3 separate regions of the Homo sapiens genome follow, and regions 1 and 3 are each linked to region 2. Evidence: fine-mapped expression QTL. A gene starts in region 2. Each other region holds a variant in brackets. All regions are shown on one strand. Distances are between the middles of the regions.

Evidence for each region.
Region 1: its variant is fine-mapped to the expression of EPHA1-AS1 in neutrophils (BLUEPRINT, PIP 0.95).
Region 3: its variant is fine-mapped to the expression of EPHA1-AS1 in whole blood (TOPMed, PIP 0.90).

The regions. Positions count from the first base shown.
Region 1 is chr7:142,628,895-142,631,743 of GRCh38, reverse strand. It overlaps TRB. Among named protein-coding and RNA genes, the nearest start is that of PRSS1, 120 kb to the left of the region's middle. The variant A/G (reference allele first, on the strand shown) is at 1,269.
Region 2 is chr7:143,406,552-143,409,051 of GRCh38, reverse strand. EPHA1-AS1 (EPHA1 antisense RNA 1) reads right to left here and starts at 1,239. Exons shown (of 5, transcript NR_033897.1): 1 at 1,166-1,239. It overlaps EPHA1 (EPH receptor A1), which reads left to right and starts at 196. Exons shown (of 18, transcript NM_005232.5): 1 at 196-328; 2 at 1,374-1,441. The coding sequence starts at 247. RefSeq lists an enhancer at 1-124.
Region 3 is chr7:143,430,352-143,433,200 of GRCh38, reverse strand. The region is part of intron 2 of EPHA1-AS1 (EPHA1 antisense RNA 1); the gene reads right to left. Among named protein-coding and RNA genes, the nearest start is that of TAS2R60, 12 kb to the left of the region's middle. The variant A/G (reference allele first, on the strand shown) is at 1,438.

The sequences.
Region 1 (2,849 bases), 780 kb after region 2:
GGATGATGTTGAGGCCAAGGAATCTGTAACAAAAAAAGCTTGTTAAACTAATCCTCACCTTCCTAGTCACTTTGCCATTCAACCAGCAACCCTAGCCTAAGCCCCTTTACTTTTTCACCTTTCCACAATGTATGACCCTTTGCCCAATTCAATATATGAATGTTCAACTCTAACTGCACATTCAGTTCTTCCTTTAATTATGGGGGCTTTCATGTGATGTAAAACTTGTATTAAATACATGTGTATGCTTTCCTTCCTGTTAATCTTCCATTCTCAGGACCAGCCGAAAAACTGCAAGAGGGTAGAGGTAACATTTTGCCTTCCCTGCATGGTCCATTATTTCTTCACTTTGTGACCAGGGTGATTAAATACACAGATACACACACAGCCACGAATCTGATTACTAAAGAAGTCAAATGTTGAAAACCTCAGTGTCTCCTATTAAGCTTTATGTTGGATTCTGTATCATTTACCTTGACCAGTAAGGTTCTGAGTGGTCTGGTGCCTTCCTGCCTTCTTCAATTTTGCCCTGTACTCAACCACCTCCTCCCCCTGCTCCTGTCACTCTGCTGACTTCTTTCCTGTCATTAAACACACTAATTTCTTTCCTGATTAAAACATTTTGCACTGGTTCTTTAATCTTTCTTAAATGCCCTTGAATTCATTATCCCTCGTCCCACTTAATTAACTCTAGCTCATCTTGATGTAAGGTATTTAGGAATAATATTTAAAATTTCTTCCTATACCTTTTATTAAAAGGAGGATAACAATTAAATATGCAATATCAGGGGCTTCAGACTCTCCAGGGAGTATTTCATCAATAATTACTTTCAAGAAATTAGACATAGTTCATTTTTTAGGATAAAAGAGTCTTAACTGGTTTTCAAAAATGGCACCAGATAGGAGATTACAGATAAAAGACACTCACATATTTATGGGTAGTTAAAATTGACTACTGGTCAGTTAATAGGAGTCACACTGCTTTCCACATTCCAGAATGGAAAAACAGCAGCAGAGGTATGAAGTTGAGAAGTAGCTTATCAAATATTCATCTTTGGACACCTGAGATGGTGCATGTACTATAGCAAATGGGTTGAGACTCTGGGAAACCAGTTCGAGAGATTATTTTTGACATTAAGAATGGGGATATCCAAGGATATAGAGGAATTAGACGACCCTAGCTCCCTTGAAACCTCTGAAATTCTTCCCATGGCTTCTCCATTACTGGGAAAAACAGTGCCTCCGTGTGTGTGTGTGTGTGTGTGTGT[A/G]TGTGTGTGTGTGTGTGTGTGTTGGGGAGGAGGATGTAAGAGTCTGTCTCTTACCTCACCCATCACTGCCTCTGAAAGGTGAACTTGATTTTAAATACAACAAAGCACAGAGAGTAGAATATAAAATCAGAACAAAAAGTTCAACACTTCAAAAAGAATTGCTAATCAAAAATTTATGTCATTCAAAATTTACAGGAAATGTGATAGGATTTTATTTTGTTGGTACTTGTCCAAGGAAGACAGAACACAAATATGGACTGAATGCTGTTCAATGCTGTTGTCTCGTTTCCTAAGGTAATATAGGTAGGCAGTAGGCTGTGTCCTTGACAGTCAGCTGGTTTGGGAATGTCAGGTCTGAACCCAGCAGCGTTCCATGCTAAATGTCACCGAAACACTACACTCCTCAGCTTAACGTAGACGGAAATAGTGACTGCGTGAAATAGGAATGTAACCACTGTCTCCCTGTTTCATGCCAGAGCCTTAAAAGCTCTTGTCTTTTCCATGCCGTTAGTGAAGCAGTGGAATATTTTATAAGTATTTTACTAGCTCTGTTCTCCAGGCTGAAAACGCTAACAGAGTAAAAGGCTACAACTAAAGTGGGTCCTGAGATCAGTGGCAATGGCACAGTCTGAGGTGACTGAACCCAGGTGGGGTATTTAACCACCAGCAACACACGGTCATAGCGGAGACGAAAAGCAGCAGCGTGTTCACTGCAGAATTGGCTCCCATCTTGTTCCAGTCAGTTCCACCTTGGTCAGGGGCCAGGTGTCATCTCCACGCTTTCACGTTCACCCTTATTGTCTAAACCCCTGTTCTGTGTTGCAAAGGGTTGACAAGGGTCCAGGTCTGTTGGGTGGTAGGTTGTCCGCTGTGATTAATTCAGCAGCCGATATCTATATGAGGATGGTAGCAGTTAAGCCACTGCTATTTCACTCCTGGTTTTGACTATAAAATGCCCTTGATCCTTTTCTTGTAAGAACTCTAATCTATTCATTTATTTGTTTTCTCTTCTTTTTGATGCTATATGCATTCAATTTTATTTATCTTAACCTGTGGTTCATAACACACAGGCATTGCTTGTCAATGAATATTTTTAAAAAACATAATAGGAACTTGTAAAACTTCTCCTCCTCAACATTATGCAAGATAGACCTTGATAATATTTCAATGTATAGCCATATAGTTCTCTCTCATTCTATTTCCTGCCATGCCCCAGCCTTATAAAAATCCTGAACTTGGGTCATTATTATTCCCTGCCAGTAGTGTGTTGGTAAAGGGTAAAGGGTTGACAGCTAAGTCTGGAGGAAAATAAAGCAAACCGTAATTTGCTGTGTTTGCTAATTTCTGTAGTGTAAATACCCTCACTATGGCCAATTTCAAGCTAACAAAATGATGTCACTAAAACTGGAGTTGGGAAAAATGTATACAGTCAGCTCCCATGAGCTGATAAAGTAGGCTCCAGCATACAACTCATCTTTGCTTTCCTTTCAATATAATTTGTTCTAATATATTTTAGTCCTGAAAATTATTTTCTTGACTTGTTTTTAGCTTTATGAAAAGCACATTATGCTTTGCATAATC
Region 2 (2,500 bases):
ACCTACTAGGCGGCGCCCGCAGTCTCATTCGGGTCAAGACGCCTCCGGTTCTTGAATTTGATTACCAGTCTAGCAAGTTTCTTTCCTGCCCTACTGTCCCTTTAAGGAGGTGAACCAGGTGAGGCCGGGACTCCGCCCCCGGCGCTGGCCCCGCCCCCCGCCCCCGCCCGGCCCGCCCGGCTCTCCTAGTCCCTTGCAACCTGGCGCTGCCATCCGGGCCACTGTCCCAGGTCCCGGCCCGGAGCTATGGAGCGGCGCTGGCCCCTGGGGCTAGGGCTGGTGCTGCTGCTCTGCGCCCCGCTGCCCCCGGGGGCGCGCGCCAAGGAAGGTACCGACCCCCGCCCCCGCGCCCCCAACCCCCGCGCCCCGCCCCTTCCCGGGGCCCGGCCAGCACCCCCCTGCAGAAGCCGGCATTCCTAGGGGCCATGTTCCCCGAGACCCTCGCCAGCTCTCTCGCTGTGCCCGACCGCCAGGCTATCGACTGGCCAGGCCCATCTTTGGTCTTTAACCCCAAGCGGCTGCTCTCCCGGGTCAGTCACCCCCACTCCCGCAGGCCAGCAATCTGCTCCTGGGAGTGGGGAGGGAATTCCGGACCCTTGCCAGGAAGTAGCACCTGCACCCGCACCCCTGCCTGCATTCCCAGACAGTCCCAGCTTCAGGTGCCCACCCCAGAGATCTGAGCCCTTGGAAGTTGAAGGTGGGAAGTCGCCTCCTGCCAACCTAGGCCAGGGACAGAGGGAGCTGCCTCCGGGAGAAGGGTTAGGACTGACGCCACAGGGGTTCCCAGTTGTCCGAGTCGAATATTCCATGTGAAAGTTGGAACACCCTCTCCGGCCTTACTCCCCCCCACTTCCCAGGCAGGTAGCTGTGCCTCTTATCCCCACTTCACGGCTCTGATCACTGGCCAGGTCAGGCCAAAGCAGGCTTCGGACAGTGGAGGTGAGCCTCCCTACCCAGGAAACCCCTTCTGAGGTCCCCGGTCCACCCTGCCCACTCCTGGCTAGCAGAGGTGAGCTCCTCCTGCCCTCCACGCGTTCCAATCCTGCAGCTGATGGGTGTCCCAGGACGCAGCAGCCTGGGTAACTGAGCGTCTCGTGGGGCTGCTCTTCTTGCATTGACTTTGGTCAAAGACCCAGCGCCCCAACCCTTGTCCCACTCTACCTGCCTTCCTTCACACACACAAAGAAGAGTGAAATCCCTGGAGCTCTTCACTCCTCAGTCCTGAGCCCTTTTTCTCCCCTAAGCCTCAGGAAGTCACAGCTTTTAGGAACAGGATGTTGCAGCCTGGGGCTGAGGCCCCAGAATGATTAATGTGGGCTGCAGGGGCACCTCCTCCCCCAGAGGTGACAGACTTCTTTTCTCCCCACTTTCAGTTACTCTGATGGACACAAGCAAGGCACAGGGAGAGCTGGGCTGGCTGCTGGATCCCCCAAAAGATGGGGTAAGTGTCGGAAGAGGGAAGGATCTTGGAAAACTCCTGAAGGCCAGTGGGAAATGGGGTGGAGAGGTGGGTGGAGGAACAGAGAAAAGAGCAGGAAAAACTGGAAGTGTCTCCTCAGGGAGGGGGAGAGGAGGCTGAGTCAGAGCCTCCTCAATGGGACAAGGGGTGGGGGGGTCAGACTTCACCTCAAGATGAACGCTTGAATGGCCTGGCTCCTCCAGTGAATACTTGGGAATATTGTGAATACAAGCTGATACTTGTGAGGGGGAGAGGAGCTCACATACCCGGGGAGAGAATGCACCATGCTGGGGATGGTTGAAGGCTGAGACCAGTGCTTTGCTTGGGGAGGGATAGAAAAGGCAGAAAAGCATCCTCAATCTGAGATCCATTCATCCCAATGAAGTTGCATTGATAGGTTTCAGGGGGTGGGGAAACCCCATGAAAGTGTACTCTAAATTCTGTATATGTAAGCGGGCATTTTTTTTTCTGGAGAGACCAGCCAAAGCTTTCATCAAATTCTTCAAAGGGTCTTTGACTCCTCCGAAGTTAAAAGCTGCTCCCCTAAAGGTTTCTGAGCCCTTAGCTCATCCTCCACACCTCCTCAGGCTGACTGCGTGCACACCATGCATTCCAGCTGTTTGAAAGTGTCAGAGCTTGTTCCAGTTCCCTTCCTTCCTTGGATGTTCCTAAGACTCAGTGAACAGGTTGTGAGGTGGGTCTGAGAGAGCATATTCAGACTCAAATGCAGAGAGCAGCTCTTATGATGTACAAAAAACCAAACTCAGTTTTTTCCTACTGCACTCTCAACACAAATCACTTCGGTGACCTGTGGTCACCAAAATGCGTGTAGGGATTCCTCCCGCCTGCAGTCAGTTCTCTCTGGCAGATTCTTCAGTGGACAGTAGCTGAGTGTCCTCTAATCTTATTCAGTTCTTACACTATCTACCTGGAGATAGCCTCAGGTTGAGGGCTCAGCCCCACAAGACTGCCCTCCTCTAGACAACAATCACAAGTAACATGTTGTCACCTATACTTCTGTTCCATCGGCTGTAATCAGGT
Region 3 (2,849 bases), 24 kb before region 2:
AAGAGGGGTAAGGACAGATTGCATCAACCCACCTTCTTTCCTTTGCTCCCCAAAACTCTTCTAAATTAACTGTGAAAGATTTTTGAGGCCAAGTGCAGTGGCTCACCCCTGTAATCCCAACACTTTGGGAGGGCAAGGCGGGCAGATCACAAGGTCAGGTGTTCAAGACCAGCCTGGCCAACATAGTGAAATCCCGTCTCTACTAAAAATACAAAAAAAAATCAGCTGGGCATGATGGCATGTGCCTGTAATCCTAGCTACTCGGGAGGCTGAGGCAGGAGAATTGCTTGAACCGGAACCCGGGAGGTGGAGGTTGCAGTGAGCCGAGATCACGCCACTGCATTCCAGCCTGGCCTACAGAGAGACTCCATCTCAAAAAAAAAAAAAAAAAAAAAAAAAAAAAAAAAAATTGAAATTAAGGCATAAATCCAAATAAAATAGATAGAAGAGTGATCAAAGATACAACAGCCCTAAGAAAACAGAATTCTATCCAAGCAGAAGGAAAAGTCAAGAATGAACCGACTTTTACCCAAGATTTGCCATACCAGGTTCCTCTAGAGAAAAACTAGTTAAAAGTCAGTTTAAGATTCAGATTCCCAAATCACTTTGTATACCTGGGCAACCACCACTCTCTCACCCTAGTATTGTCTGGAAAGGATAAAATGGGATCACTGAGCTGGATGTATCTATAGCACAGTTGAGACAAGGGTACTATACTGAGACAGGGACATTAGGTGAGCAAATGCTCTCCTCTCACATGGTTTTTAGAACTCCGGAACCCAGGCTTTTACCCTACAGGCAGATGAGTATCGTCTTTTCCAAGAACTCAAACATTCTAAAAGGAAGACATAAAGACAATATCAGATATTCCTCAAATAATTAGTCCAGCCAATCACTTTACAGTGAAGCCCATAATTAACAAGTCCCATTCATGAGTTCAGAGTTTCCAATCAGCCTTTCCATCTCTTTTGCACAGGAGCAGACAACGAGGAGCTTGGGACATCTGAGAATGGCACCTAGCATGGAAAATAAGACCAAAACAAAACAGGTATTTGGAGGAAGAAAACAATGCAAGGAGAAGAAAGCTTTGCCAAAATGATATCAGTATTCTCAGAGTTATGAGAATATAATAATAACATACAAAACAACAGGTTACTGTTTAAAAGAAATACTCAAAATTTTTTAAAAGAAAGTTCTTGGAATTAAAATGACAATATCTGAGATTAAATGTCAATAGAAGAGCTGAAAGCTAAAATTTATTAAATATCTCAGAAAAGAGAGCAAATAAACCCATAGGTTAAAAACAAAACAGAATGCCAATCTGGGATGTCTAATAACCAAGAAATAGGAGTTCTAAACAGAGAGATGTCATAAATGGTGGGAAAAAAATCAACAAAATAGATGCAAAGTTCCCAAAGCTAAAGGACGCGACTCTTC[A/G]TATTAGAAAGACTCACCAAGTATCTGTCTCATTTCATACACTTTTAGAAAACTGAGCACAAAGAGAAGTTCCTACAAGCTTTTAGAGAGGAAAAGGAGAGGAAAAATACTAAATTCAAAATATAATATTAGGAATTTTATTTTAGACTTTTCCATAGTAATTTTGGAAGCTAGAAGGCAACAGAGCAATGTCTTCAATATACAGAAGGAAAATTATCTCTACCTTGGAATTCTCTATCTGGATACTCAAGTACAAGGACAAAATAAAGGCTTTTCAGGCAAGCAAAGTCTCCAAATAAAGTTAATTTTTTATGTTCTCTTTTTCTGGAGGATACTGGAAAATGTGTCCCTCCAAAGCGGGAGAGTAGGCATGATAAAGGAAGACATGAGTCCAGGCAACATGAGGTGAAAGGTGAGAGACAGGCGGAGGAGGCCACCAGGAGGACTGTAAAGGCAGACCCAGGATGGAGGGAGGTACATCAGGCCTGAGCATAAGTCCAGACTGGAGCAGGATATGAAGCCCCAGGAGAAATTTTCTCAGGCAAATAAAATTTGAGGATACTTGATGATGGAATTGAGAACAAAAAGCAAACAAAACAAGGTAATTGTTAAATCAATGGAAACAAAAATGTGTACAGGAAAGAAAAATTAATTGCAGTTTAATACATGGTTTCACCATGAATAGCATTTGCATTGGCATAATATTTTAAACACTAAATATTGATTTTACCATTACAATAAAACTATATTGAAAAGTGGGAGACAGAAGGTGTTTGCCAGGGGAATGAGGGTGAGGAAGAACTAAAGGTTCATATTCCATAGCGGAAAGCACACACACACACACACACATGCACATACACGTGCACATGCACACACACATACACACACACACACACACACACACACACACACCAGGTAAAAGAGTTGAAAGTAGTTGCCTTGGGAAACAGGAATTGGAAGAGGATGGAAACGAAAGCCTCTATTTTTAAAAAAACAAACAAAGAAATGTCCCTTTAAGCAGAAATACCTGGCTCTTTGGTCTAGATGCATATATCACTTTGACAAAATCTTAAGAAAAAATGAGAAAAGTCAAGAAGGAGAGGGGTACAAGTAAAAACAGTCAAATTGGCCCTCTTTGGTTTTCGTAAATCATGGTGCCTCCTAGAAGCAAAGATTCATTTTCCTCTCACAGTTAGGTACTTGACTGCTGTCCTCCGTAAACAGGAATTAAAGTGATCTAATATTACTCATAATTTTATTAAAATCTTCCAAGTATGTGTTCTTCATAATTACTTAGAGGAAGAAAGGGCAGAAGACAATATGAGTCATGTTTCTAAAATGGCTTAATCATCTTGCAAAAAAAATCCTAATCCAAGATTTCCATTTCTCAAATAATAATTTTTCTCCTGATT